4 linked regions of the Homo sapiens genome follow. The protein of the gene in region 1 interacts with the protein of each later gene in a biochemical or structural test. Each region holds a gene or a part of one and is shown on either strand. Other genes may lie near its edges.

What was found.
Region 2: of the proteins of FGR (region 1) and KHDRBS1, one has a biochemical effect on the other in vitro, tested with the Homo sapiens proteins (2 studies listed by BioGRID, with this or other methods).
Region 3: the proteins of FGR (region 1) and DAB2 form a complex in vitro, tested with the Homo sapiens proteins (one study listed by BioGRID).
Region 4: the proteins of FGR (region 1) and STAT3 form a complex in vitro, tested with the Homo sapiens proteins (one study listed by BioGRID).

The regions. Positions count from the first base shown.
Region 1 is NC_000001.11:27,632,097-27,639,865, forward strand, and holds the start of FGR (tyrosine-protein kinase Fgr), read right to left. Parts: upstream 3,090-7,769; 5' UTR 2,969-3,089; intron 1-2,968. UniProt on the Homo sapiens protein: Non-receptor tyrosine-protein kinase that transmits signals from cell surface receptors devoid of kinase activity and contributes to the regulation of immune responses, including neutrophil, monocyte, macrophage and mast cell functions, cytoskeleton remodeling in response to extracellular stimuli, phagocytosis, cell adhesion and migration.
Region 2 is NC_000001.11:32,030,815-32,037,986, reverse strand, and holds part of KHDRBS1 (KH domain-containing, RNA-binding, signal transduction-associated protein 1), read right to left. Parts: intron 6,464-7,172; coding exon 6,347-6,463; intron 4,800-6,346; coding exon 4,653-4,799; intron 1,078-4,652; coding exon 944-1,077; intron 153-943; coding exon 1-152. UniProt on the Homo sapiens protein: Recruited and tyrosine phosphorylated by several receptor systems, for example the T-cell, leptin and insulin receptors. Once phosphorylated, functions as an adapter protein in signal transduction cascades by binding to SH2 and SH3 domain-containing proteins.
Region 3 is NC_000005.10:39,379,960-39,387,131, reverse strand, and holds part of DAB2 (disabled homolog 2), read left to right. Parts: intron 1-3,860; coding exon 3,861-4,514; intron 4,515-5,515; coding exon 5,516-5,678; intron 5,679-7,172. UniProt on the Homo sapiens protein: Adapter protein that functions as a clathrin-associated sorting protein (CLASP) required for clathrin-mediated endocytosis of selected cargo proteins.
Region 4 is NC_000017.11:42,322,443-42,329,442, forward strand, and holds part of STAT3 (signal transducer and activator of transcription 3), read right to left. Parts: coding exon 6,968-7,000; intron 3,758-6,967; coding exon 3,674-3,757; intron 2,620-3,673; coding exon 2,521-2,619; intron 2,405-2,520; coding exon 2,269-2,404; intron 1,184-2,268; coding exon 1,131-1,183; intron 913-1,130; coding exon 818-912; intron 702-817; coding exon 562-701; intron 53-561; coding exon 1-52. UniProt on the Homo sapiens protein: Signal transducer and transcription activator that mediates cellular responses to interleukins, KITLG/SCF, LEP and other growth factors. Once activated, recruits coactivators, such as NCOA1 or MED1, to the promoter region of the target gene.

The sequences.
Region 1 (7,769 bases):
AACTCCCTTTCTTTCTTTCTTTGTTCTTCTTCTTCTTCTTCTTCTTTTTTTTTTTTTTGAAACAGTGTCTCATTCTGTCGCCAAGGCTGGAATGCGATGGTTCGATCTCGGCTCACTGCAACCTCTGCCTCCCGGGTTCAAGCAATTCTCCTGCCTCAGCCTCCTGAGTAGCTGGGATTACAGGCGTCTGCCACCATGCCCAGCTAAATTTTTGTATTTTTAGTAGAGATGGGGTTTAGTCATGTTGGCCAGGCTGTTCTTGAACTTCTGACCTCAGGTGATCCACCCACCTCGGCCTCCTAAAGTGCTGGGATTACAGGCGTGAGCCACCGTGCCCTGCCTTCATTAACCCCCTTTCATCTCACACCATCCTTTCTTGAGGCCTCGAAACTGCCTCCTGAAGAAGACATACCCACCCAACCCTGTCTGACTCCACCACCACCGTGGTGAGGCCAGGTGTGTGCAGGATCGGGGGTGGCCTTTACCCTCCATGTGGTCCCGAGGCCATTAGCAGTTTTTTCCACTTCTTGTGGGTAAAAGTGGTTTTCCACCTGTTGCTGAAAACCACCCACCAGCCTCTAAAACACAGCTCTTTAGATGCCATCTGGCCTGGGACTCAGGATTTTCAGGAGATGGAAGCCATGGCGGCGGGGGGCGGGGGTCCAGGGGCAGCCAAGGGATGGGAGTCTAGATTTCACAGTGTGGCCAGACAGGAAGCCCCCTCCCTGGTCCCTCAGGGGAGTGGGGCGGTGAGGGGGACATCCTGCCTTTTCCCACCTTAGGTCAGCCCAGTCTGCTCTGCGTGGGAAGAGCCCTGGCCCCTACTTCCCCAGCTCTGGGGTTCCCTACCCAGCCTCCTGAGGTCTGGCCACTTCCTTTGCCACATCAGCCCCAGGTGGCTGCAGAGATCACCCAAACATCCACTCATATGCTCAAGGGTTCATGCTCATTCACTCAGAGCCCAAAACATACAAACACTCACACCCTCACTGGAGGAGGGTGTGAGAGCACCTACTCACTGGAACAGGAAGTAGTCATGAAGCCCCTAAACCCCACACCCTCCTCCCCGGAGGGTACATGAAACTTGGTAGGGATGAGGTAAGGATTCAGGCCTCAGCTCAGGCTACATCAGAGACGAGATGTCCTGGAATTCTGGTCCCTACTGTTGGCCCTGCAGGTTGCCAACTCCCAAACCTCCATCTTCCCATCTGTGAAGTGGGAACAGGGTCCTGCTCTCCCATCATCACCACAGTCGGAAGGATGCCAAGGACATCAGGGCCCCTGAGAGTACACACCCGAGGGGCGGCCAACTGGATGCAGCACCAGAGAGGGTGTGAGACAGATTTTAACTCTGCTGACCTCCCCAGTATGGGCTCTCATCAGAGCCATAAACTATTTAGACGCCAACTGTGTGCTGGTCCCTGGAGGCCCTGTCAGTGAGAGCCGGGCAGTCTGGTCCCCCTCCATGCTTTTTGTTGTTGTTGTTGTTTACAGACAAAATCTCACTCTCTCATCCAGGAGCTCTCACTGCAGCCTTGAACTCGTGGGCTCCAGCGATCCTCCGGCCTCAGCCTCTGGAGTAGCTGGGACTACAGCAGGTGCCACCACTTCCAGCCTTCTGGCTAACTATATTTTTTTGTAGAGACAGGACGGGGGTCTCCCTGTGCTGCCCAGGCTGGCCTCCTCTGCATGTTTTTGAGAAGGTGAAGGGGAGGCTCGCTGAGTCAGGGATAGCCCTTAACCCTTCAGGACACTCAGCAAAAACTGCTTTCTGCACCTGATTCTCGTGGGGGAAGAGTGGACACAAGGATCATTTCTCACCATAGTTCAGATGAGGAAAGTGAGGCCCAGAGAAGCCCTGTAACTTGCCCACAGTCACACAGCAATTAAGGGCCCAGTCTTGCTAAGAACCCAGGTCTCTCAAACAGCAGATCCTCCACCCCAGGATCCCTGAACACAGCGGCATCGCCTCCTACCTCGGTCGGGAAGCCCACCCCCCACCCACCAGACCGAGGATTCCAAAAGGGGGCGAAGGCGGAGAGCAAAGGGGGCTGCGCCCACCCGGAGCCCCGCGGCGGCCCAGCGCGGCCCGCCCTCTCGTTGCCTTGGAGGCAGCCCCTGCGGGCACTCGCGGTCAAAGGCAGGATTTCCGTCGGGGCGGCAGCAATTCCCGGATCCAGCGGGGAGCGCGGGCCGAGACCGCCGCGGGCGCGGAGGGGGCGCCCGGAGAGGCCTGTCCCTGCCGAGGGCGGGGACTTCCCCAGGAAGCGGGGACCCACGCCTCGCGCGCCCGGCAGGAGTCCCCTGCAGCCCGGAACCTACCGCAAGGGCGGGCCGAGAGGGTCGCGGGGCCGCGGTCGCGGCCGCTAACGTTACCCTGCGGGCTGTGGGCTTCACCCCGACTTCGGCCGGCTCGGAAGAGGGGAACTTCCTGGACCCGCAATTGCACCCCAGGTTCTCCGTCCTCCAGAAGTCGTTCTCCTCAACCCCCTTCCCGCCAGCTCCCTCTCCTGTTCCCTCCAGCACCCCCACCCATTTCCCCTCTCCTGGACCCATCAGACCCGTCGGCTTCTCCCCAAAGTCCCACTCTCACGATCCCTTCAGTTTCTCCCCCAGACCGTCCTGGGGATTCCCCTTAATCCTTCTCCCCCACCTCAGCCCCCTTCCTAAACTCTTATCAGTCCCCTCCATTTTACCCACTAGACCTTTTTGGGGGTCCCTTTGGTCGGCTTCCCCCGTGCTCCCCTCCGCCCTCTCCTCCAGGTTTATCAGCCTTGCTTTTCAGGTCGCCCGTTTTCCTCCTTAGGCCTTTTCGGGCTGGGGTCCCTTTGGCTGTCACCTTGCTCATGTGTCCCCCGACCCCCAGGTTCAGGCTTCTCTTCCCGTGTACCCCCAGTCCTCTCTCCAGAGCCTCGAGGGGGAGGGCACTGCTTGACCTGCCCAGTCCCCACCCGACGCTGTCGCTTACCTGGAGCCCAATTCTGCCCGGCCCCGGGGTGAGCCAGCCGGGGCTCCAGCAGCCGCGAGTGCCGGCGTGCGGGGAGAACTGGGGTGCTGCCCGCCTCTGACCGCCGCCCCTGCTGGGCAGGGAGGAGGAAGCCGCCTCGGACTTCTCTTATTGCAGTCACGGCCGGCGGGCGGTGATGGTGGCAGGGAGACAGTCACGCCCTAGCCCCAAGCCAGCTCCCCGCAGCGAGGAGGCGCCCCCAGATCCTAGGCCCACCCGCCCCCACCTTCCTCCTCCCTGGTTTACGGGAGGTCGGCTCTGTCACCCTCCAGACCTGAGTCCCCAGCCCGGCCTTCCCAAAAGCCCCCTCCAAAAGCGCAGTTTCAGCACCCCCGAAGCACCTGCTCTTTTAGGATCATTGAATTGGAGGTTAAGAGGGGCTTTTCTCCATCACTGAGGACCAGATCGGGACTGGCCTTACTCGAGTTCTCACAGCCAGTTGACTTCAGACTGCTGTCACCAGAGCCACTGGACATGGATCACATGGACCCTGTCAGCACGCCTTCCCTTCCTCAGGGGCTGAGCACTGGGGACACAGGGCTGTTAAGGGTGGTGAGCAGCAGAAGACCCTTCCCTTAGGAAACTGCCTTTCAGAGGAGTGGGAAGGGTGTCAGCCTCCCCCAGGCACCCAAGTTTTAGAAAAACTGAGTAACTGGCTGGGGGCAGTGGCTCAGCCTGTAATCCCAGCACTTTGGGAGGTTGGGTGGGAGGATTGCTTGAGCCCAGGAATTCCAGACCAGCCTAGGCAGCATAGGGAGACACCATCTCTACCAAAAAAAATTTTTCTTAAGTTAGCTCGGTGTGGTGGTGTGCACCTGTGGTCCCAGCTACTGCAGAGGCAGAGGTGGAAGGATCCCTCGAGTCAGGCAGGTCGAGGCTGCAGTGAGCTGTGATTGAGCTACTGCACTCTACCTTGGGTGACAGAGCAAGACCCTGCCTTAAAAAAAAAAAACACAAAAAAAGAATGTGGGTTTTGTTGCAGAAAATGACTTTTTTTAAAAAAAAGAAAGAAAAGGCCGGGTGCAGCGGCTCACGCCTGTAATCCCAGCACTTTGGGAGGCCGAGGCGGGTGGATCACGATGTTAGGAGATCAAGACCGTCCTGGCTAACACAGTGAAAGCCCATCTCTACTAAAAATCAAAAAATTAGCCGGGCGTGGTGGCGGGCGCCTGTAGTCTCAGCTACTCAGGAGGCTGAGGCAGGAGAATGGTGTGAACCCGGGAGGCGGAGCTTGCAGTGAGCCGAGATGGCGCCACTGCACTCCAGCCTGGGCGACAGAGCGAGACTCCGTCTCAAGAAAAAAAAAAAAAAAAAAAAAAAGGAAGAAAAACTGAGTATCTTAGAACATGTGGAAAAAGATTTTTAAAAACAAAAAGAGAAACGGTAGCATCCTCTATCAGTTCCAGTCTCTCTGTCTGATAGGGATCCCTGACCCCTCCTCAATCTGGGGTTCAGTCCCCACTCCCACCACTGTTACTTCAGCCTTAAAGCAAGAACCCGGAATATCCCTCCTGTCCAGGAGAGGAAGAGGTGTGGTGGGGAGGGCTGTTTGGTGGAGAAGGATGTGTCTGTTGGGATGTGGTGAGAGGCAGGGAGAGTGTGCGTAAACACAGAAGTGTGTGTGTGTGTGTGTGTGTGTGAGAGAGAGAGAGAGAGAGAAAGCAATGACATGATGACTTTGCTTTTGGAATCAACAACTAGGCCATGGTGTGCAGGCAAGTGTGTTTCTTTGTATGGGCAGGGGCATGTGGGGATGTGTGTGTGCATGCGTACACATGCTCAAGTGTGGCCCAATGTGCCTGGGGTAACAGAGTGGTGGGATGGAGATAAGAATGCTTTTCTCTTAGGAAATGGGAGGAGGGATGAGGAGGAAGACAGAGGAGCCAGTGGCAGTGCAGGGTCTCTGGAAGAGTGGCTTCACCCTAGCCGGGCAGCATCACCTCCGCCATCAAATGCTCCCTGCCTGGCCATCGGCCCACATGTTCAATTAGCAAACAAGCAAACGTTTATAATTGTGTCTTAGGTGCCAGCCTTAGGGAACACAGAGATGAGAGACTGGTCCCTGCTCTTGGGGGATCCCCCCAATCTATCATGCTCGCTCTGTCATCCTTCAAGGTCTGACTCACAAGCATCTGCTCTAGAGGCCTTCCCTGATTGCTGCCTCTACCCACTCCACACCCCCAGCAGAACCTCAGCATCTTCTGCCTGGGGCACCACTGGTTCCTGGGGGATGGGTGTGTGGGATATGTTTTCCTCAAGGGCAGGGGTCTGGCTCTTGTAGATGCCTCCAGTACCCACACAAGGCCCAGCACACAGTAGCAGGCTTTCTGTGTATAGGAACACGTGAATCAACCAAAGGACAAAGGAATTAACAGATGAACAAAGGAAAGCCCAGTGAAAAACTAAATAATGGAAGGTAAGAAAGAATGAATGAAGAAATTCAAGAATTGATGACTGAATAAGCAAATGAATGGAAGAACAAAATGACAACATTGCTTCTCAGGCCGGGCTCGGTGGCTGACGCCTGTAATCCCATTGTTTTGGGAGGCTGAGGCGGGCGAATCACTTGAGGTCAGGAGATCGAGACCAGCCTGGCCAATTTGGTGAAGCCCCGCCTCTACTAAAAATACCAAAATTAGCTGGGTGTGGTGCCGGTGCCTGTAATCCCAGCTACTCAGGAGGCTGAGGCAGGAGAATCGTTTGAACCCAGGAGGCGGAGGTTGCAGTGAGCGGAGATCACGGCACTGGACTTCAGCCTGGGCGACAAAGCAAGACTCCGTCTCAAAAAAAAAAATTGCTTCTACTTTTTAAAATATGTGTTGGGCCACATTAGTCCCTTGCTTAAAATCTCCCAGTGCCTTACCTTTCATTTTGCTTGGAAAAATAAAAATACAATACATACGATACCATAATAATAAAGAATAATAAAATCCAGCAGCTTTGTCTTGTCCTCTGAGGCCCTGTGTGCTTGGCCCCTGCCTCCTCTCCAGTCCCAGCTTTAGCCATCTTTCCCTTTACCCACATTTGGATCTTTTTCAGTTCCTAGAATACACTGAATTTTTGTCTCACAGTCTTTTTACATGGTGTTCCCTCTTCCTAGGATGCTCTTCTTCTTGCTCTTCACAGTACTGCTTCCTTTTTATTCTTCAATTGAAGTGCCGTCTCCTCAGGGAAGCCTCCCCTGACTGCCACATCTAAGAAGGTCTCCTTATTCTCGGTCTCAGCATCCAGTTTGTCTCCTCTATGGCTATCACAATCTGGAATTATATATTTCTGTGTTCATTGTTTTTTGTCTCTGGACCTCTCTAAACCAGATTAGGGCTCTGACCCAATCTGAGGTCAGGAGACAGCTGGCACTTCTTAGGACGAGCAAAGTGGATTCTATGCCCTCATTCATCCTTTCAGAATAACCTTGATTAGGAACACAGACTCTGGGCCCAGGCTGCCTGGTTTGCAGACCAACTCTGACCTTGGACAAGTTATTTCACCTTTTTTTTTTTTTTTTTTTTTTAGACAGAGTCTTGCTCTGTCTCCCAGGCTGGAGTGCAGTGATGTGATCTTGGCTCACTGTAACTCCCAGGTTCAAGCGATTCTCCTGCCTCAGCCTCTTGAGTGTCTGGGATTACAGGCGTGAGCCACCACACCCAGCTAATTTTTGTATTTTTAGTAGAGACAGGGTTTCGCTCTGTTGGCCAGGCTGGTCTCAAACTCCTGACCTCAACTGATCCACCTGCCTTGGCCTCCCAAAGTGCTGGGATTATAGGTGTGGGCCACCGCGCCCTGCCCAAGTTATTTCACCTTTCTGTACCTCAGTTTCCTCATATGTAAAATGGAAATTTAGTAGACCTCACCTCACAGAAGTCTTGAGAGAAATCAGTGAGCTGTTAGAGGAGTGTTTGGCACATAGTAAATACCACATAAGTGTTCACTATCATTCATTCATTCATTCATTCATTCAATTAAACCTCAACTCTCTGACCACAGTTTCCTATCCTTTCAGCCCATGTATTCACAAGCTCCTTGAAAACAATTCTAAGTCAGGTATGGTGGCTCACACCTGTAATCCCAGAACTTTGGGAGGCTGAGACAGGAGGATCACTTGAAGCCAGGAGTTCGAGACCAGCCTGGGCAGCCCAGGAGTTCGAGGCTGCAGTGAGCCATGGTTGTACCACTGCACTCTAGGCTGGGTGACAGAGCAAGACCCTGTCTCTAAATAAATAAATAAAACAATTCTAAAAACTGATACCAAAATCAAAAATCAAAGCCCAGCAAGCCCAATGAGACCTCTCTCATCCATTTCCCAGCTAGCCATCACTCTCCTCCTCTTCTCACTCCTGCTTTCAACCAGCCTAGATTCTGCTGTCAGTCCTTATGGTCATTCGTTGCAAAGACCTGGCACTGTCCGGCCTCCCTCTCCCTCCCTCTCCCTCCAGTGTACCTGCCTGGAAAACCCAGGCCTGCAGGAATCTAACCATTACCTTCTTTTTTTTTTTTTTTTTTTTTTGAGACAGAGTTTCGCTCTTGTTGCCTAGGCTGGAGTGCAATGGCACGATCTCAGCTCACCGCAATCTCCTCCTCCCAGATTCAAGCGATTCTCCTGCCTCAGCCTCCCGAGTAGCTGGGATTACAGGCATGCGCCACCACGCCTGCCTAATTTTGTATTTTTTTTTTTTTTGAGATGGAGTCTCACTCTGTCGCCCAGGCTGGAGTGCAGTAATTTTGTATTTTTAGTAGAGACAGGGTTTCTCCATGTTGGTCAGGC
Region 2 (7,172 bases), 4.4 Mb from region 1:
GGATGCCCGCTGTCCGTGCTCTTGGTGCTGGAGCACCCCTCACAGTAGGTGGGGGTGGCACGCCTCGAGTCACAGTGGCACCTCTGGTGATGGCTCCCCTTACTGGTGTACCACGTACCAAAGCCCCCCGAGGTGGTCCAACACCACGGCCCCTACAAAATGAAAGTTTATCTTAAATGGAGCTTTTTATAAACAGGCCACTTTTATGTTCTGATTTGTTTACAAATTCTGGAATTAGGCAGATTTTATGAAGCCTTAACTAGGCTATTATTAAAGCACAGAGGAATGTACAGGGTAAAGGACCCACACTGCAAGATCCCCCAGGTCCTATAGAGGACCAATTCATCACTGCACTGCCTTGGGTAGGTCTGGAGAGTCTGAATACTCTATAAAGGTCAGTCACAAAAGGTAGAATTTTAAAGTCAGACCATTAACAAATGCTAAGACTGTCCAAAATTAGAAGACCAAAAGTTTCAGCTAGACTGCAGCACTTGGCTATGGTCAAAGTGCCCAAGATCTAGAACTCTATTTTTTTTTTTTTTTGAAATGGAGTCTTGCTCTATCTCCCAGGCTGAAGTGCAGTGGCATGATCTCGGCTCACTGCAACTTCCGTCTCCTGGGTTCAAGCAATTCTCTTGCCCCAGCCTCCTGAGTAGTGTGGTGTATGCCACCACACCTGGATAATTTTTGTATTTTTAGTAGAGACAGGGTTTCACCATGTTGGCCAGGCTGGTCTCAAACTCCAAATGTCAGTTGATCCGCCTGCCTTAGCCTCCTAAAGTGCTGGGATTACAGGTGTGAGAGTATGGTTGTAGAATTCTGTTCTTTATGCAACATACAAATCCTGAGACCCTTCCTAAGCTAGACATAAGAGCACCACTAAAAGAGATGACACTAGTAGTCAAATTCACATCCTATTTCTGGGTGTCTCCATTATTTTTACCTGGGAACAGGTGGTGGAGGAGGTGCAGCTCCCCGGCCTCTCACTGGCACCCCACGTCCACGAGAGGGTTCAGGTACTCCATTCAAGTAGGACAGCTCTAGAAATTGCTCCTGACAGATATCATCCATCATATCCTGGGAACGAAAGATACAAGGAGTATTGTGTGGTATCTACACTTTCTACTGAGAAATCATCTGGTCCACGGGAGACTTGAATTCTAAGAAGAGCTCTTGAGAGCCCAGATGAGGTCTCAGGTCATTCCTTCTCTGAAGTCAAATGGCACCCTATCTGTCACCTCTTTGAGAAAAGTCTTGATGGTAGACCCCTCATTATTCATAATGTGGTCTCTGCCTAGCTCTCCGGATCACTTCCATTCTCTCTCTATATATAACCTACTCACAAGCCAGACTGAACAACTTGTAGTTCAGAGCCTGGCATACTCTTACATATCCATTCTTTGCAAATAGTTTCCTTTTCCTGGAATAATAAAAGCCACTACCATTAATGGAGCTGTATGCACTTGGCTCTATATAATAAGCTTTATATAGATTTTTCAGTTTAATCTTCAAAATGAGGGCCGGGTGCAGTGGCTCACGCCTGTAATCCCAGCACTTTGGGAGGCCGAGGCGGGCAGATCACGAGGTCAGGAGATCGAGACCACCCTGGCTAACACGGTGAAACGCTATCTCTACTAAAAATACAAAAAAATTAGCCGGGCGCGGCAGGCACCTGTAGTCCCAGCTACTCGGAAGGCTGAGGCAGGAGAATGGCGAGAACCCGGGAGGCGGAGCTTGCAGTGAGCCAAGATAGCGCCACTGCAGTCCGGCCTGGGCGAAAGAGAGAGACTCCATCTCAAAAAAAAAAAAAAAAAAAAAAAAAATCTTCAAAATGACCCTGAAATAAGTAGGCAGATCTCCACATTTTACAGTTAAGAAAACAGACTCAAGGAGTATACATCAACCAGCTTAAGAACACAGAGCTAATAAATGGCAGACTCTAGATGTGAATTCAGAATTACCTGTCTCAAAATCTAGGTGTTGGATCAACAGGCTTTTTTGTCCTTATACTGTCTTTTTTGTCCACCTGAGGGATTCTTAATTCATCCTTACAAGACTTGCCTAAATAAGTGTCTCTTGAAAAACTTTCTCTTGATGCCACCCCTACAACTCCTCTTTTCTCAAAGTACCACATAATTCCCTATACCCAAGCACTTACCACATAATTTTAGAATTGTCTGTCACTAAACTGTAAGCTCTTTAGGAGCCATTTTTGTAACTTTACACCCAAGCATAGTATCAGACATCTGACAGATACTTAAGAAATGTTTGGGACGAACAAGAAACCTGAAGCTCAGAAAAGTGAAATGATAACCTGTTCAGGAAGACACAGATAGACAGACATACATAGTCCAGTGCTCTTCCTACGGCACTGTGAAGCATTGCTGGTATAGTTAATTGTTCTAAGTGGAAAATGGAGGGCTCTGGTCACAGATGCAAAAATAGCCTCACTTTTCTTTCCTCCACAAGAGGGAAAAATCAAATGCCACTGGCAAATCTTTTCACACTTCCTATTGAGAGCCATTCAGTCTTAATACTTCATGCATTTTTATATATCCCAGGCGTATACAGCTTCAATAGATGATGCTAGTCTTTGATGCCCCCCTCAACTCTCTAGCTCCTCCTACCTTACACATTACCGCTGCTTGAGACTCACACCTTGGAGAATCAAGTAACCAATGCCAGACCATTGCTCAGACTCCTCCAACTGCCACATCAACACTGAGGAAACCCACATCTCCCCGGCAAGCATCTTTTTCAAAAGATTCACTTACAAGCAAGCCTCATAAACCTAACCCTTCTGAGGAATATGAGGGAGACTAACAATGAAGAGAGGAGATGGGCATTCCCTCTGCAGTCCTTTGGAAATTGAATGGCTTGGGTGATCAATAGAACACCCCAAAAAGAGTAAAAAGAATTTCCTTAAGATTATTAACCAGCTGTGTTTTTCTCTAGGATATGTTAAATGGTCTGTTTCATGTTGAACATTCTTTTTTTTTTTTTTTTGAGACAGAGCCTCACTCTGTCACCCAGGCCAGAGTGCAGTGGCGCAATCTCGGCTCACTGCAAGCTCCGCCTCCCGGGTTCATACCATTCTCCTGCCCCAGCCTCCCGATTAGCTGGGACTACAGGCGCCTGCCACCACGCCCAGCTAATTTTTTTTTTGAATTTTTAGTAGAGACGGGGTTTCACCATGTTAGCCAGGATGGCCTTGATCTCCTGACCTCGTGATCCACCCGCCTCGGCCTTCCAAAATGCTGGGATTACAGGTGTGAGCCACCGCGCCCTGCCTCATGTTGAACATTCTAATGAAGATGAGGTACTTGAAAGCAAAGCAGCTGCTAAGACATTTGAGACTGTTGGAATCCTTGGAGTTCAGCATTATGGGTACACAATGCCTAAAAACTTATTTATTTATTTTTTTTGGAGATGGAGTTTCACTCTTGTTGCCCAGGCTGGAGTCCAATGGTGCAATCTCAGCTTACCGCAACCTCTGCCTCCTGGGTTCAAGTGATTCTCCCGCCTCAGCCTCCCTAGTAGCTGGGATTACAGGCATGTGCCACCACGCCCGGCTAATTTTGTATTTTTAATAGACAGGGTTTCTCCATGTTGGTCAGGCTGGTCTCGAACTCCCGACCTCAGGTGATCTGCCCTCCTCGGCCTCCCAAATTGCTGGGATTACAGGCGTGAGCCACCGTGCCTGGCCCACACTGCCTATAAATTTTTGCCCTATCAATTTTCACATCATCTGACACCACATTTAGTTCTAATTCCCTCATTTAACATTCAAGAAAACCAAGGACTGTATCTTACCTCCTCCTAGTTTTCTGATGAACACATGACGCTTACTCAATTCTACTTAATAATATTCCAAATCCTTCATAAGTCTCCAGATTCATCCTTGTTATTAAATATTCAACAGTAGTATGTTAACTCTGACAACCACCAGGCCTTGCTAAAAGGCAAAAATAGTACCATTTCCTATTTATTCAAAGTAATATTCCAACCAAGTATTCAAAGGTGGTAACAAGCAAGATAGATAAACTGGCCTGTCCCATCTCTATCTAGTCCTCAGTAATAGTCTGAAAAAAGCTGCTCACCTATCTGTTAAACATCAATAGTCAACCTCTTCCAAACTAAACTCGTCCTCAGCAAACTCCTCCAGGAAAGAAATCCCTGAGTGTGCTCAGGTCAGAATTTAACCCAATAACACTAGATGCTATAAGCTTCTTGCTGCTAGTCTCTACTCTCTACAGCATGAACTTCTTGAGTGCAGAGACCCACCTTAGTCACTTTCCTAACACAATCTCCTTGTTCCACACTACTACCAAAATACTCAGCTAGGTGAAGACCCTGTTAAACCTTAGTTAACCAAATATCAGAATGCAGGCACACTGTGGACCCGAGATACTGACAAGATACCGGTACACAATGAAAACCACATTAGACAAGGAGGGATAGAGTGGCCTTGGAGCATAATGCTTTGAGAACTAGGTGCAAGTAACGAACTACCTAAGGAAAATGAACATAAGTGCAGAATTTGGTATACATACAGGTTATGCAGAGACCTTAGTTAAGAACCCCTACCTTCACAACAGTATAAGATCCCAGTTCTCTTTTGCTCAGAAGACACAGGATATGGATTTCCTTACCGGTACTAGAAATTTCTTGACTTCCTCCATGGCATGGGCCATAAGAGCATAAGCCTCACATGGGGGTCCAAAGACTTCAATGAAGACATGCAGATCCATATTCAAGTGGGCATATTTGGGGTCTCCACCTTTGCGCAGCTCTTCCTCCTATGGAAAAATGCAGAGAAATGTCACACCATGGACTAGGGAGAAAACACCACCTTTACCTCTAAGCCAAAGGAACAGCAAGAAATACCCCTAATGTCCATGAAAAACAGTAAAGTTAATTGGTATGAGCTGAGAAGAATTAAACAAAAAAAGAAAAAAGAAAAAAGAAAAACAGTAAAGTTTAAGAAAGTAAAACAAGCAGCCAGGCGCGGTGGCTCACGCCTATAATCCCAGGACTTTGGGAGACTGACGCGGGAGGATCACAAGGTCAGGAGTTCGAGACCAGTCTGACCAATGTGATGAAGCCCCGTCTCTACTAAAAATACAAAAATTAGCCGGGCATGGTGGCGCACGCCTGTAATCCCAGCTACTCAGGAGGCTGAGGCAGGAGAATTGCTTGAACCCGTGAGGTGGAGGTTGCAGTGAGCCACTGCACTCCAGCCTGGGCAATAGAGCAAGGCTCCCTCTCAAGAAAAAAAAAAAAAGTAAAACAAACTCTCAAGAACAGTAATTTGCACAGCCTGCTAAACTTGCACATGGTCTGCTGCTTACAGTTAATTGTTGTCTTAAATCCCTGAGATATCCATTGGAGCTCCTACTAAAAGCATAAAGAAGAAAAACTTAATTCTAGTCTATTCAGATAATAGCTGTTTGCCAAGCATTTGTTTTTAAATCACAGGTAGAGCTGTTAATCACCACGAGCTCTGCTTATCTGCTTATATGGTCTAGGGAGTGGTAGGGGAAGAAAGAAGTCAGGACAGAGGGAAGAAAAGCTCATGTAAATCTCATTAGTTAGAACACACTTCAGCCGTAACTATATGCATCTAGCAAGAAATGACCTGAGAAAACAAACATGTGTCCATTAGACTACATAAAAGGAGGGTTGAAAGAATTGGTTTTTGGACTGTAGCAGGAATATCTCATCAAATAAGGTGACCCCAGAAGGCTAAGACTATTCTGTTTTGGTGAGAAGTTTCTTGTCACAGAGTACACAGCGTACGCGGCTATGGCATGGGGAAAAAAAAGACGCATTAGATTCTGTAGTCAGGATTACTCATGGTTCCTTTTGGAATACATTCTTTTAGTGAGCCTCACATTCCAAACCGGCTATAAAACAAACCAACTAATCCTCAAACTCATCTGCTCTCACATTATTGTTCTCACTTTTCCAGGTTACAAAAAAGGGGGTGTGCTATTTGCATTTTAGCGTCTTTTGTCTGCTTTAGACTAAATTTTAGTATATTCAGTTCCCCTTTCAAGTTTTCACAGACAATCCTACCAATGCGCAACATGCTACTGCTGTTTCCATTACTACACAGTCAAAAAGTCCAAAAGAAAACTATCACCAGGGCACACCTAGGCTCTTCCAGGGTTGCCAAGCCAAGTAAATTAACTTGGTGTATAATCTCTTGCATCCAGTGCAAACTTAAAGGAGCCACATTCTGTACACATACAAAATTCTTGCCGCCTCTATAAGACATCCATACTGCATTCTGGGCAAGTAGAAGGCATTAGGATGTCCTCTTGCCTCACTAATGTGAGCTTACCTTGGCTTTGTCTCTCATTGAGCCCTTTCCCAATACAGAGATCTTTGCACCAGTCTCTTCCTGCAGTCTTTTGATTGTATTCCCTTGTGGTCCAAGAATCTTCCCCACAAAATTGAACTGACAGAAAATAGAGGATTTCTAAATATACATGCTACTATATAAAAACATTTCCACATAAATTACCTCACTTGATTTTAAACAACCCTGCAAAGGTAGAGTATTACCATTCCCATTTTACTGAAGGACACTGAAGCCATATTAATAAAGTGATTAGCTTAAGGTTATGAAACTAGAAAGTGGCAGTTCCTAGACCTGAATTTGGCTTTTCTGATGTATTCTGGTGCTCTTCCATAATACATTAAGACCTTTACTATTTTATTTTTTACTTTATTTTGAGACAGGCTCTCACTCTGTTGCCCAGGCCAAAGTGTAGTGACACAATCATGGCTCATCACAGCCTCAACTTTCTGGACTCAAGTGATCCTCCTGCCCCAGCCTCCAGAGTAGCTGGGTACAGGTGCACACCACAACACCAGGCTAATTTTTGTATTTTTTGTAGAGATGGGGTTTCGCTATGTTGCTCAGGCTGGTCTTGAACTCCTGGGCTCAAGCAATCTGCCTGCATCGGCCTCCCAAAGTGCTGGCATTACAGGCATGAGCCACTGTGCCTGGCCCAGCACTTAACATACATCAACATTTTTAAGGCAGTGACCTCAGAACAGAAGAGACTATATAGCACCCTTTGATAACACGCTGGATAAACTAAATGTAACTAAATGCTTTCCTAAAAAAAAAAAAAGGAAGAAAAAAAGCATTTACTTAAAAG
Region 3 (7,172 bases), on another chromosome or scaffold:
GGAGAGGAGCAGGGACTTCATGCATTCTTCTCTGACCCTAACCATATGAGTATCACAATGCATGGTAGCATTCTAAAATGCCTTTAAGAGAGAAGCCTGTTTAATATTCATTTTAGCAGTGAGCCCTAACTCACTTGCCTATAGAACCTTTCATTCTTCATAATTTTTGTTATAGTTCTGAGGATAAACTTTTTAAAGTACTAGACTAGATTATCCTGACAGGTCCATCCTAACTCTGAGGTCCTTTTGATTTGTAGTCAACTTTGTGCTCTCCTCCATTAGTGATGTTTTCTCAAATAAATCAGTATCTGAACACTTACTTCCCAAGTATAAATGACATTCAAACAAGTAATATTCAAAGAGAGCAAAGCACTCAAGATATGAAGTGGAATTCCACTGGAATAGGCAAGGAAGTACTGCCTATATAATCTACTTCTGTAGACTTCTAGAATGTTCTAAAAAAGGAAATGGAAAACAACATGGATAATCTTCAGTCTCATTTTTATTAGACTTTATGAAGTCTAAGAATTTTTTATTTATAGGAATTCAAGTTTTAGTTAAACTAACAATAAAGTAATAAATACCATCAAAATATATACTCTCTGATAACCAAAAGAAGGCTAACAGATCTAATTATGTGCTGGTTAGGCTTTGACATGTTCTTATCTATTGACTCTATAGTCATAGGTCAAAAATAGATTTATCTCTACTTGGTAAAGCCAGCATGTTTAAAAATATTCAACTCTTTCAACAATTGCTCTGAAATATGTAAAGAGAGAAAGAAATCTAAATTACCTAGACTTTATTATTGGTCCTAGATGGTTGTCACTCCCCTCAAATTTATACAGAAAAGTTTTATGAGTTTCAAATAATGCTCATGTTGCAAACTATGTGGTATCCCCTAGAACAGAATTTTTATTGGCAAGCCCCTTGAGCATTATCCTTCCACACTGCATCTCAAAAAAGGAAAAGAAAGAAAAACATAAAAACCCATGTTCTGCAACTTTAACAACCACTTGAAAGCACAGTTACTATGGAAAGAATATAAGACATGATCTGTGATCAAGGAGATTAAATCTGGTACAAGGGATGGGATCAGGATACAAAGCAGGAGTGTCACTTATGTCCTTGTGTACATGCCATAAGATAACACGGGTGGGCACAGGGCAAGTGCAGACAGAAAAATCGATGCTAAAAGCTTTGTAAAGAATCTGAATTTGAGTTGGGTCTTTGAAGTGTGTAGGAAAATAGATCATAGTTGGGCTAGAAACAACGTGGGTCTTATTGTGGATCATTTGGAAATTTGGCCTAAGGAGGTTTATTTTAATATAGGGAGCCAGCAGTAAGCCACTTAAGGCTTTGAGTAGAGAAGTCCTCAGTCTGACAAACTGGAATGGTTAGGTGAGATTAGCCACCCAGAGAAGAGCTAGGCTATGGAACTCAGGATTTATGTCCGATTACTGGAGCTCCCTACGAGCAGGTTCTGTAACGCACTGCCGTGTCTCCAGTGCGTGCGGCTCAGGTGCTCAAACAGTGGCCAACTGGAGGCAGTGTTGACAGTTCGACAAAGAATGAATGAGGCGCTGACCAAGTGGGTGGATGAGGAGTCTTTGGGCTCTCAGTTGTAGTCTGTGAACTACACTTTTAATCTTGGATTAATAACAAACCCAGCCTGAGGAGAGCCTTATACATTTTACTTATAGGGTGACTATTCAGAAGTCTAACATTGTGGCTCCTGTTTGGTGTCCTAAGAACTTCTTCTGAAGTATTTGAAAACGAGAACTCTACCAGCTGTGAACACTCAACTGTTCTAACCCAGAGGTGGCTCAAAACAAATAAATAAATATTGAAATCACAAGCTTTTGTAATACATTTTATCCTACCTTTTGATTGTATAAAGATCCCTAGATTAATAGCTCTTCCAATCCATTTCTCTGATTAAATTTTTTTTTAATTATAAGCTCTTTCTTGTGACAAATTCTTCTTTTATAAAGAGAAAGCCTGGCTTTGGCTTATAAAAACTGTATTTTTATGCCTCACAGTAAAGGAATCCAAAAGATAGATTACCATTTAGGTCTGATTTTGCTGTCTCTTTTGTGGCCATGAAATAGGACTTAAACTTTCTAAACAATTGGGTATTTTTTTTTCTTTTAAAAGCCAAGGAGTTCTATTTGAACCCTTTTGTATTTACTAGTTTGCAAATTTTATATTCCCTTGAAGTTGTTTATTTTCCCCAATGATCAAAATATTTAGTATTCTGCTCAGGGTAATGCAAGATAACTACTATAACTTGCACTTCAGCAAGGCATTTTTTATCATTTATATTCTTCTCTGGGTAGCATAGTTAAGTATTTAATGGATCAAAGTCAAGCAGAAGGAAGTGATGTCAGTATGAAAGTTCTGTTCTAGGATGAGTTATAATTCTGTCTTTTACTGGAATAAAGACATGTCGGATTCATCAAATTTACTGCTTTTAAGCTGAGAATTTTTTATCAAACAGTTGAAAATCCAAAAAATTAACACACCAGAGAAATGATAGAGAGGGGATAGAATTAGTAGAGCTACATATTTGATATGTCTTTCAAATTAACTCTTAAACCCATGTCTCTACCTTGTACAATAGTCCCCCTTTATCTGCAGTTTCACTTTCTGAAATTAAGTCTGTGGTCAACCTTGGTCTGAAAATAAGTGAGTACGGTACAATATAATATTTTGAGAGAAGAGAGACAGAGAGACCACATTCAAATAACTTTTATTACAGCATATTGTTATAATCATTCTATTTTATTACTTGTTAATCTCTTATTGTGCCTAATTGATAAATTAAACTTTATCATGTGTATGTATATGAGAAAAATACTGTATATAGGTTTTGGCACTATGTGCCATTTCAGACATCCACTGTGGGCCTTGGAACATATTCCCTGAGGATAAGGAGGGACTACTGTATATAAATTAAAGATCAGTTGTTGGTTGACTTTAACCACTAAATAGATGAGATTACTGTCACAACACAGGCAACTCTAAGCAATGTTATGAAAAGATGTACAAATAGGAGATCTTAATGTGTGATTGACTAAATTAGATCAGTATTGAGTGTCTCTTTCAGAGGACATAGACAAAAAGGGTAAGCCCAGAGGAGAGACTGGGATGATGAGGATGAGATCCTACTTGACTATCAGCTTCAGCAAGAGCCTTAAATATTAAGAGACATACCTGAAGGCCGTGATATAAAAGAAAAGCCTCTCTCCCACCTCTAGAGGAAAGAACTGGACCGATTTTAGGGAAATGCATTTGATCTTAAATTTCATCACAGCCAGAACTATAAAATATGAATGTATTAGTCGATGAATTTTCTCATTTAGAGAGATGATCCTACATGACTCTGGGGGTACAATAGAGAGGACTGTATGTGTATAGGTAGGAAGCTGAGCTAAGCTTCTGAAATCACTTACTTTCAAGCTCAACATACTTTGATAATCATTTATAGTGACTCACAATCAATTCCCTTTAAGACTTTCAAAGTCACAAATTGAAACAATGCTCATAATGAATTAAGCCAGTCTGTATGTGTGAACCAGGGTGAGCAGAGACATGAAGTAAGCAACAGTAAGATTTCACCTAATGAGGTTGAGACTTAAATAAAAGGGCATGATATTGGGGAGGAATAGAAAGGACCTAGTCTATAGCTAGGGAGTAATGGACTACGGGGGTTGATGGAAGGAGGTAATGATCAACCGATTTATCAAGACCAAATTCAAATGGAAATTCTGATAATCCTAGTCATCTTATGTAATTTTCTCATTTGAAGTCACAACATGGACTAACACTTTCTTTTTTTTTCTTTCCAAATGTGATAGGAAAGCAAAGATATCCTGTTAGTGGATCTAAACTCTGAAATCGACACCAATCAGAATTCTTTAAGAGAAAATCCATTCTTAACAAACGGCATCACCTCCTGTTCTCTTCCTCGACCAACGCCTCAGGCATCCTTCTTGCCTGAAAATGCCTTTTCTGCCAATCTCAACTTCTTTCCCACCCCTAATCCTGATCCTTTCCGTGACGATCCTTTCACACAGCCAGACCAATCGACACCTTCTTCGTTTGATTCTCTCAAATCTCCAGATCAGAAGAAAGAGAATTCGAGTAGCTCGTCTACTCCGCTGAGTAATGGGCCCCTGAATGGTGATGTTGACTACTTTGGTCAGCAATTTGACCAGATCTCTAACCGGACTGGCAAACAGGAAGCTCAGGCAGGCCCATGGCCCTTTTCAAGTTCGCAAACCCAGCCAGCAGTGAGAACTCAAAATGGGGTATCTGAAAGAGAACAGAACGGCTTCTCTGTCAAATCCTCCCCGAACCCTTTTGTGGGAAGCCCTCCCAAAGGACTGTCCATACAGAATGGCGTAAAGCAGGACTTGGAAAGCTCTGTCCAGTCCTCACCACATGACTCCATAGCCATTATCCCACCTCCACAAAGTACCAAACCAGGAAGAGGCAGAAGGACTGCTAAGGTGAATTGTCTTCTCCACATATCCATTAGCAGAGTGCATGTTCGGTACCAAAGGGTGGTGTGATGCAAGCTCTCTTTCCTGCTGCTCTCGTAGTTTCCTGTGTTGCTGTGAAATAGAAGGTGGGATAAGGCACTTTGGTTCTCCAGGAGTACTTTCCTCTAACTGCCACCGTTTTTAAGCTTCTCAGCAGTGTTTTTCACACCCTGCTTTCCGTGTGCATGTCTTGTCACTTATGATTAAACTAAACACAAGTTTTTCCATTTTTAATGCTGCTATGCTTCTATACCTCTGGTAAGTTTGATCATCGTGTTCTGGGTTGGGAGGGTGAGAGTTCTTGTGATTCCCTTTGTACTTCCCTGACACTAACACATGCCCTGCACACCCATCATGTTGCATCAGTGTCCATGGTGGTGGTATAAAATTCTCGAGCTTATCTCCTCTTTTAAATACTGAGTAAATACATAAGCTTTTTCTAAGCTTATGTATTTACTATTACCACTATGATCTCAGCTTTATTTAAGAGCAATTTAAAATGCAGTTCCCATAGGTGTCTTTTTTTACCTCTCCTAAGAATATACAGGCTTGCCTGGATTAAGACCCTATGATCTCTATGTAGACTGACTTAAAATCCAATGGAATGAACAAAAATATTTAGGATGCTTATTGGTAGTTGCCCCTTTTACACACTTGCTCCCCCAACTTCAAGCATTTAGCGATGAGACCAGACCAATGTGAGTGTGTAAAGGAATATAGTAGATTTCACTTTGCAAGTCCTAGGTAGTGTCAGACACTAAGACTCAGTAGTCCGTCCGTTGTAGGAATCTGTGTCTTTTTTTGGAGGACTCTTTTTCTGTAGTAGTAGTTGTTGTTGTTCATCTGTCAAGAAAAAAGTTTTCCTTTTTGTGGCTCTCAAATTGGGGTATAGGGTAGGAGACAAAATGAGGCTGTATTTCACTGTTAGTGAGTAACTAAGGCTTCTCCCTCCCTCCCTGTCCTGTCAGTCTTCAGCCAATGACTTGCTTGCATCAGACATCTTTGCTCCTCCCGTCTCAGAACCTTCAGGCCAGGCGTCACCCACAGGACAACCTACAGCCCTGCAGCCCAACCCTCTGGATCTCTTCAAAACAAGTGCTCCTGCCCCAGTGGGGCCCCTGGTGGGTCTAGGTAGGTGCCTAGAGATAAAATTAAGTATGACTCTTTTGCTTTTGCTCATAAAATGATGATGCATCGGAAGAGATTTCATACTCCCAGAGGGTTTTACAGCATAAGATTTGAGCATCCCAGGGAGCCCTTCTCCCACTTCTACTATACAACCCCACATCCATTTGATATTCTTGACTTGTAACTCACATTTGGCTCCTCGAGGCAGCATGAGACAAGAAATTCATTTTCAGTATTGTACTTACTTGAACCAACTGGTCATGGTTTCCTGAAAGACAATTGTAAGGGATTCTAAACTCAGACCAGCTTCAGTAGCAAAACAGGGTTGACATAAGAGAGGCTTGTCTGTCAACATGCATGTCTTCCATGTCTTTTGCCATAATAGATCGAAGGCCTATGTCCTTTCAACACATAGCCCTCTTAGAAGGAATATATGCCCAAGAAGGATGTAAGTTAAGTCTGAAGCAAGAATAAGTCATAGAGTGAAAGTCCTAGGTTCTGGGCCCAGCTGTGTTCCTAGGTGTATGGTAAGGGTAGATCAGGCACACATCCTGATCAGTCTCTGAGCACTTCTGCCATAGGAGCTCCTTGCCAATATTTTGGCTAGCTTGAGTGTTTTACTGAAGCTAGAACATAAGTCCTAGAAAGCCAAAGTTGAAAAAAGAGAGAAATAAGGGAAGAGATGGAATTTTATCAGACAGCTAGTATGCATTGACGCTCTTAATTCCTAAATGTGTCATTAGCTTGTGTGAGCCGCTGATCACTCTGTGGTAGGACAGTGGGAAAGTCCACTTGACTGAGGGCTGGCCTTGCTATTCTTAGTCCATAGCCTATAGTTCTTTTCAGACTCCATGGTACAGTTTTCAGAAACCCTGACAATAGTTTTTGCTGTCCTGCTATGGACTCTATTTTTCTTCTCTTGGCACCTCTACAAACTCCAAATGGACTCTGGCTTGGGAGGTGGAGGACTGTAGACGAGGAAGGACTCTCCTCTCCTTCGGTAAAATCTGACCAGGGATCCTGGCTTTCTCTGCCTCCTGCAGTCAGTCATCAGGATCCTTGTTTTGTTTTCCTCTCTGTCTCTGTTGTTTTCCTACAAAGGAAAATAGTTTGGTTCTTTTACAAGAAATCTGTTTAATCATATCTAGAATAGGGTGGCCAGAGGAGGACTGTTACTCAACTGCTGAGTGGCAGAAATCCGTGAGGGTATGAAAAGCCAGCTTGTCCCAGGTCTCTGCTCGCATTTACCCCATCAAGAGGCTCTCTCTAAAGACTTCATGTCTCTTGGGGGCTTCCCCCTTTCTGCGTTGCTCTTTTCCTTGCACCCCCAAGTGGAGCTGGTTGGTACCCTTCCCTCACAGAAGACCAGAGTGCTTGCAATGCAATGTCTGCAGCGAGATCACATCACAGAGCTTTTTATCTGATATCAATGCCCTTAAGAATTTTTGCAGCCAATATTTAACAAGTCAGCCTGAAAATACAGCTGGACCCTATAAC
Region 4 (7,000 bases), on another chromosome or scaffold:
TTGTTCAGCTGCTGCTTTGTGTATGGTTCCACGGACTGGATCTGGGTCTTACCTGTCACAGGACATGGGAAGGAAAGATCATGGAACCTACAGCTAGGTCATCTCAGAGAAAACTGCCCATTTTTTCTTTCCTCGAAGGGGAAAAGACTTAAGCCACCCTAGTGTTGAGACCCTGAACACCCTGTTCAGTGGCCTGGCACTGTGGAAATATTCAGGCTGGCTTCTAATTAAGAAGAGGCTACTAGTTGGGTCATAGAAAATAAACTTGAATATAACTACTTGCGTAAGATATATTAACAGGGTTAAGTAGAAAAAGAGATGAAGAATACAATTTAAATTGCAAAATTCTCAACAAATAGTCACTGGAGCAAGCAAAACAAAGCAAACCAATCCTTCAGCTGGAAGGATTTAGAAGTCACGCAAATGTGTTTTGCGAGTCTGAGTGAAACAGGGAGTCAAGGCCATCTCCACCCACCAGGGGGCAGTAGGTGCTTGCAACTAGAAGCAGTGATGAGGCCTCAGCAGCCACCAGCAGGTGGGGTGGGTGGGAGCCTCCCTTACCGCTGATGTCCTTCTCCACCCAAGTGAAAGTGACGCCTCCTTCTTTGCTGCTTTCACTGAATCTTAGCAGGAAGGTGCCTGGAGGCTTAGTGCTCAAGATGGCCCGCTCCCGCTCCTTACTGATAAAGCCCATGATGTACCTGGAGCCAAGGAGGAGGAACAATGTTGTTATTGCTAACAGGGCATCCATCCCCTGCCACTGGCTTGCTGAGAGCAGGGGACTTGGTTACATCTGTGCACACTCTGTCCAACCTACCCTTCGTTCCAAAGGGCCAGGATGTACTTTTTCACAAGGTCAATGATATTGTCCAGCCAGACCCAGAAGGAGAAGCCCTTGCCAGCCATGTTTTCCTGGAGAAAAGAGTAATGGGAAAGCCAAGTCTACTGCCATCCCAGCCCTTCCCTTCCTAGGGGTGCAGTGCATCACCCAAATCCTCAGGCCCGTCTACCTTCAGGCAGGTCCTACTGGCCGCTGGACCAAGAGTTCAGGGCCTTCAAGCCAGAGCCCTCAACGACAGCCGTGCAGGTGAGCATTCCCATTCCCACGAGAATTTAACAAGATTGCTTACTTTGCAAAATTTAGCCCATGTGATCTGACACCCTGAATAATTCACACCAGGTCCTGAAGGAAAGAAAAAGAGTCAAGTAGTACATTTTCAGCTTGGGGTCAAGAGGTTATTTCTTAAAACAGAACACACACACATTCATCCCACAATGGGCCACAAAATAATCAGCTTTCACATCTTTGAAGGTAGGCACTGTTGTGTGTGTGCACATGAGGACAAACACTATCCCATCATTTGACTCACTTGTGTTGCTGGGTAGCCCAGCAGGGATGGAGGGTGATATAACAAGTCCCCCTGCTCTTCCCAACCTCGGGTGGTAGGCTGGGAACCAACAGCAGCACTCACTAACAAGCTGACATCGGGTGTCAGACAGGTGTATTTGGTGGCAACAGCTTTATTAGAACAAAGCTACTTCTAGCCCAGGTGGCACATAAAATATTCCACTAATTCTTTTTTAAAAACTAGCCTACGCTGGGCACAGTGGCTCAAGCCTGTAATCCCAGCACTTTAGGAGGCCGAGGTGGGCGGATCACGAGGTGAAGAGACGGAGACTATCCTGGCCAACATGGTAAAACCCCGTCTCTACTAAAAATACAAAAATTAGCTGGGCGTGGTGGTGAGCACCTGTAGTCTCAGCTACTCGGGAGGCCGAGGCAGAAGAATCGCTTGAACCCAGAAGGCGGAGGTTGCAGTGAGCCGAGATCACACTACTGCACTCCAGCCTGGGCAACAGAGCAAGACTCGTCTCAAAAAAATAAATAAATAAATAAAATAAGACAAAAAAAACCAACTAGCCTATAGTTTATTAAAAAAATGGACAGGGAATGTCAAGCCTTTAGTGCCACCTTCCAACACACACTTAAAAGATCTTCTAAAGTTAGATAGAGTGGGTGAATGAGACAGCAACCAGGAGAAAAGAAATCTACCTCCCACCTCAAAAATGATCACCTCGACTGAAAACTGCAAACTGTCTCTGCACCCCAACTCCCCAACTCCCCTGTTTCCTGGCACCAGCACAGCGCCTTGCTCAGGAAAGAAACATGGCCTAATGCTCAGTAGACATGGCCCAAATGAACAGCCCTATGGGCCGGATCCCTTTTCTGGGCGGGTGGGCGGGAGGGAGAAGGGGTGAAATGCGGACCCAAGAGTTTCTCTGCCAGTGTAGTCAGCTGCTCGATGCTCAGTCCTCGCTTGGTGGTGGAGGAGAACTGCCAGCTCAGGACCTCGGCCACTTGATCCCAGGTTCCAATTGGGGGCTTGGTAAAAAAGTTTACATTCTATTGGAAAGAACACATTTGCTTGTTTAGATGAGGGATGGTGCTCATTGTCTATACTAGGTACCCCTAAGTCGCAAGAGATCCCGGGGCACCAACTAAAAGGAGGGGGCACTAACCTTGGGATTGTTGGTCAGCATGTTGTACCACAGGATGGACGCCCAGGCATTTGGCATCTGACAGATGTTGGAGATCACCACAACTGGCAAGGAGTGGGTCTGCGGAGGGAGTGGGGACTGAGCTGGGGAGGCAGAGGGGCTCTCACAGCCTTGGAAATCTCTTCACCCGCATCTCACGGGGCTCAGAATGAAAGGACATGCCATAAACCACACCTGCTGCCAACTCTAGGCGAGGAGTGTGAGTGAGTCAGCTCAGTGAGCACTCATAGTGGAAAGAATGCCCAGCGTGGCCACACAACTCAGGCTGCAGTCGGAATATACCGGTCCCTTGTAAAACCTGACTTGCTCAAAGCTTGACTCACAATCCACAGATTCCCCATTTTTAAGACCTTGGAGGCATTCTCCAAGACTTGAAGCTGTATCTTCACATGAAACAGGGAGGTCTCAGGAATCAAAGACCAGGATTCCTGCTTTTCTAGGTATATCTTAATTTAAAAATCAAGAAAGTTGGGAAAGGAGAATGTCATTGCCACAATTTTCTGTATACTAAACACACTGGCTGCTAAGACTCTTATGCCCAAACTTTATAAAGTCAGTTCTAATTTCTTTTTTTTTTTTTTGAGACGGAGTCTCACTCTGTCACCCAGGCTGGAGTGCAATGGCACAATCTCAGCTCACTGCAACCTCTGCCTCCCAGGTTCAAGTGATTCTCCTGCCTCAGCCTCCCGAGTAGCTGGGATTATAGGCGTCCGCCACCATACCCAGCTAATTTTTGTATTTTAGTAGAGACGGGGTTTCGTCATGTTGGCCAGGCTGGTCTCGAACTCCTGACCTCGTGATCCACCCGCCTCAGCCTCCCAAAGTGCTGGGATTACAGGCGTGAGCCACCGCGCCCGGCCAATCAATTTCTAAATAGAGATTTTCATATCAAGTTTGCTGAAAGCTGAATATACACACATCTTCTAAGCATTCAAGCAAGACTTTATTGCCAGATGGGATGCCAAGGATTTTTTTGGAGAAAAGTAAGCAAAAATAAACACAGTGTTAAGCAAACAGTAATCATTCCACCTTCTCTTGTAAAAATCCCAGTGGAAGTTTTTGTCCTGAGTCACCCCTGTACGTAGCCTCTCACCGATTCTGCTGCAGAACTTACCTCTAGGTCAATCTTGAGGCCTTGGTGATACACCTCGGTCTCAAAGGTGATCAGGTGCAGCTCCTCAGTCACAATCAGGGAAGCCTACAGTAACGAGAAGGACACTCTTAGGCCAGGTGTGGTGGCTCATGCCTGTAATCCCAGCACTTTGGGAGGCCAAGGCAGGAGGATTGCCTGAGCCCAGGAGTTCGAGACCAGTCTAAGCAGCACAGCAAAACTCCATCTCTGCAAAAAATACAAAAATTAGCTGGGTGTGGTGGTGCACACCTATAGCCCCAGCTACTCGAGAGGCTGAGGTGGGAGGATGGCTTGAGCCTAGGAGATGGAGGCTGCAGCGAGCTATGATTGTGCCACTGCACTCTAGCTGGGGTGACAGAGTGAGACCCTGTCTTAAAAAAAAATTAAATTAAATAAAAAAAAAGGCTGAGCGTGATGGCTCACACCTACAATCCCAGCATTTTGGGAGGCCGAGGCAGGTGGATCACATGGTCAGGAGTTCGAGACCAGCCTGGCCAATAATTTGGTGAAACCCCGTTTCTACTAAGAATACAAAAATTAGCTGGGTGTGGTAGTGGGCGCCTGTAGTCCCAGCTACTCAGGAGGCTGAGGCAGGAGAATCGCTTGAACCCAGGAGGCAGAGGATGCAGTGAGCCGAGATCACGCCACTGCACTCCAGCCTGGGTGACAGAGTGAGACTCTGTCTCAATCAATCAGTCAATCAATAAAAAAGAGAAGGACACTTTTCCTCAGAGAGAATGGCATTCAGTACTAACAGCCACAGCCAAGGAAAGTGACATGCCAAGCCTCACCACACCAAGAAGGGTAAGCCACCAGGTGGTCACAAACAAACTGCCAGGGACACAACTTGCTCGGCACTTACTCTCTTCAACACCAAGAACTTCCAATGCTGTGATCCTCAACCTAATCCTTTACTCAGTTTGTATTATAATATTACATAGATCCAATTGGTTATTTGTAAAATACGTAAGGCACAAAGAATAACAAAACAATATGAACCCACCATTCAATTTAAGGAAAAGTCCATCACTCCTAAAATTCTCTGGGTGCCCTTCCCCAACCCCATCCCCTTCCCTCCTCCCTCAGAAATAACTGCTATTTTGTCTTTTGGGTTTATCATTTCCTAGCCCTTTTTGTCTTGTTTTGTTTTGTTTTTTTACAGTTTTACCATATTTGTTTATCTAAGCAATGCAGGTATTGTTTAGTTTGGGACATTTGTGAACCTTACACTTATGGACTCCAATGAATTCTTTTGGGATTCACTTTTCACTTGATGTGAAATGAATCCACATGGTTATGTGTATCTGCAGTGTATTCCTTTTCACAGCTGCGGAGTATTCCATTGTGTCTATACCACAAATAATGTATTCATTCTAATGTTGATGGGTATTTATTTGGGTTGCATTTAGAGCTTATAATCAGGCTGATGTCCACTTTATATATGTCTCCTGGGACATATATGCAAAGATTTCTCTGCTATTAAATCCTGGGAATGGCACCGTTGGTTTACAGGTATGTTCATTTTTATACTGCCAAATTGTTTTCCAAACTGACTACAACAATGTCTCACATCAGTACAGCAACCTTATTTTAAGTAAGAGTTGTCAATGAATTCTCAAAAATTGAATTCTAGTCTGGGCACAGCGGCTCATGCCTGTAATCCCAGCACTTTCGGAGGCCGAGATGGGTGGATCACGAGGTCAGGAGTTCAAGACCAGCCTGACCAATATGGTGAAACCCTGTCTCTACTAAAAATGCAAAAATTAGCCAGGCGTGGTGGCATGCACCTATCGTCCCAGCTACTTGGGAGGCTGAGACAGGAGAATCGCTTGAACCTAGGAGGCAGAGGTTGCAGTGAGCTGAGATCGCACCACTGCAATCCGATAGAACGAGACTCCGACTCAAAAAAAAAAAAGAAAAAAGAAATTAAATTATAATTCATTTTTAATACTATTTTTCTGATTATAAAAGTAATATATTCAGTTTAAAATGCAAATATCACAGAGACAGTCTAGAATAGCCATGGATACCAACAGCAGCACTAATACACATAGCACTGCTGGTATATTCCTCCAGAATTTCTTAATATACATATGAATACACATAAGAGTATAGTGTATTTTTAAAACACATATACTAATAATACTATTCAAATTATTTTACATTTTGCTTTTTCTTAATATGTCATGTACATTTTCCCATATCATTGCATACAGGCTACTTCACTCTACTGTCAAGTAAAATTCCACATTTTTAAAAAGGACTGCTACATTTTATTTTATTTATTTTTTTGAGACAGAGTTTCACTCTGTTGCCCAGGCTAGAGTGCAGTGGCAAAATCTTGGCTCACTGCAAGCTCCACCTCTCAGGTTCAAGCGATTCTCATGCCTCAGCCTCCCCAGTAACTGGGACTACAGGCGTGCACCACCACACCCAGCTAATTTTTGTATCTTTAGTAGAGACGGGCTTTCACCATGTTGGCCAGGCTGGTCTTGAACTCCTGACCTCAAGTGACCAGCCTGCCTTGGCATCCCAAAGTACGGGGTGTGAGCCAGCACGCCCAGCTAGGACTGCTACATTTTAAAGAGGAAGAATTGTTCAGGGGACAAATGTAAGAAAAAGAACGGGGCATCACAATTTTTAAAAATGACTGAAAACTAGCCTTCCGTCACATTTACCTTTTTTTGTTTGTTTGTTTAAAGTTTATTCTTGACAATAAGAATCCAATAATCTGAATCAATGAAAAGCAGAAAATAAGGGGGATAAAGAACAAGATGGGTTTTTGTTTGTTCATTTTATTTTATGTACTCTTTTCCTAAGCAAGCTAATGCAAGGTGGTCATTTATTTTAAAGTTTAACTCAAATCTGTTGCTTTTACACCCTCTATCCCACCTCAGTGGGAGAGAAAAACAGGGCACTAAAAATGGAGCCAAGCAGGGTCAGCCGCAGGAGCTGGATGGGGAATTTGGAAAGCCCCAGGCAAGGTGGAAAGCTGCTTTATACCACATGGGTGTGGAGAACAACTCAGCAAGGGACTTTCCACTTCTCCTTAAGGAGGAGCCAACTCCCAGATATTCACGGAAATGTTCCAAGCCAGAGAGCTCCATGGCACATGGAACTTCTGTTCATGTCACTTTGGCCTGAAGTGACTTTTTGGAATAACTACAGCTGAAAGAACAGGTTGATGTTTCTAATTCTGGGGATTAAGAAGGATCTTTACCCCTCTCTCCCTCAAGGAAAACACCCCAGTTGTCTTTCATCCCCAACAAAACTTACATCACAATTGGCTCGGCCCCCATTCCCACATCT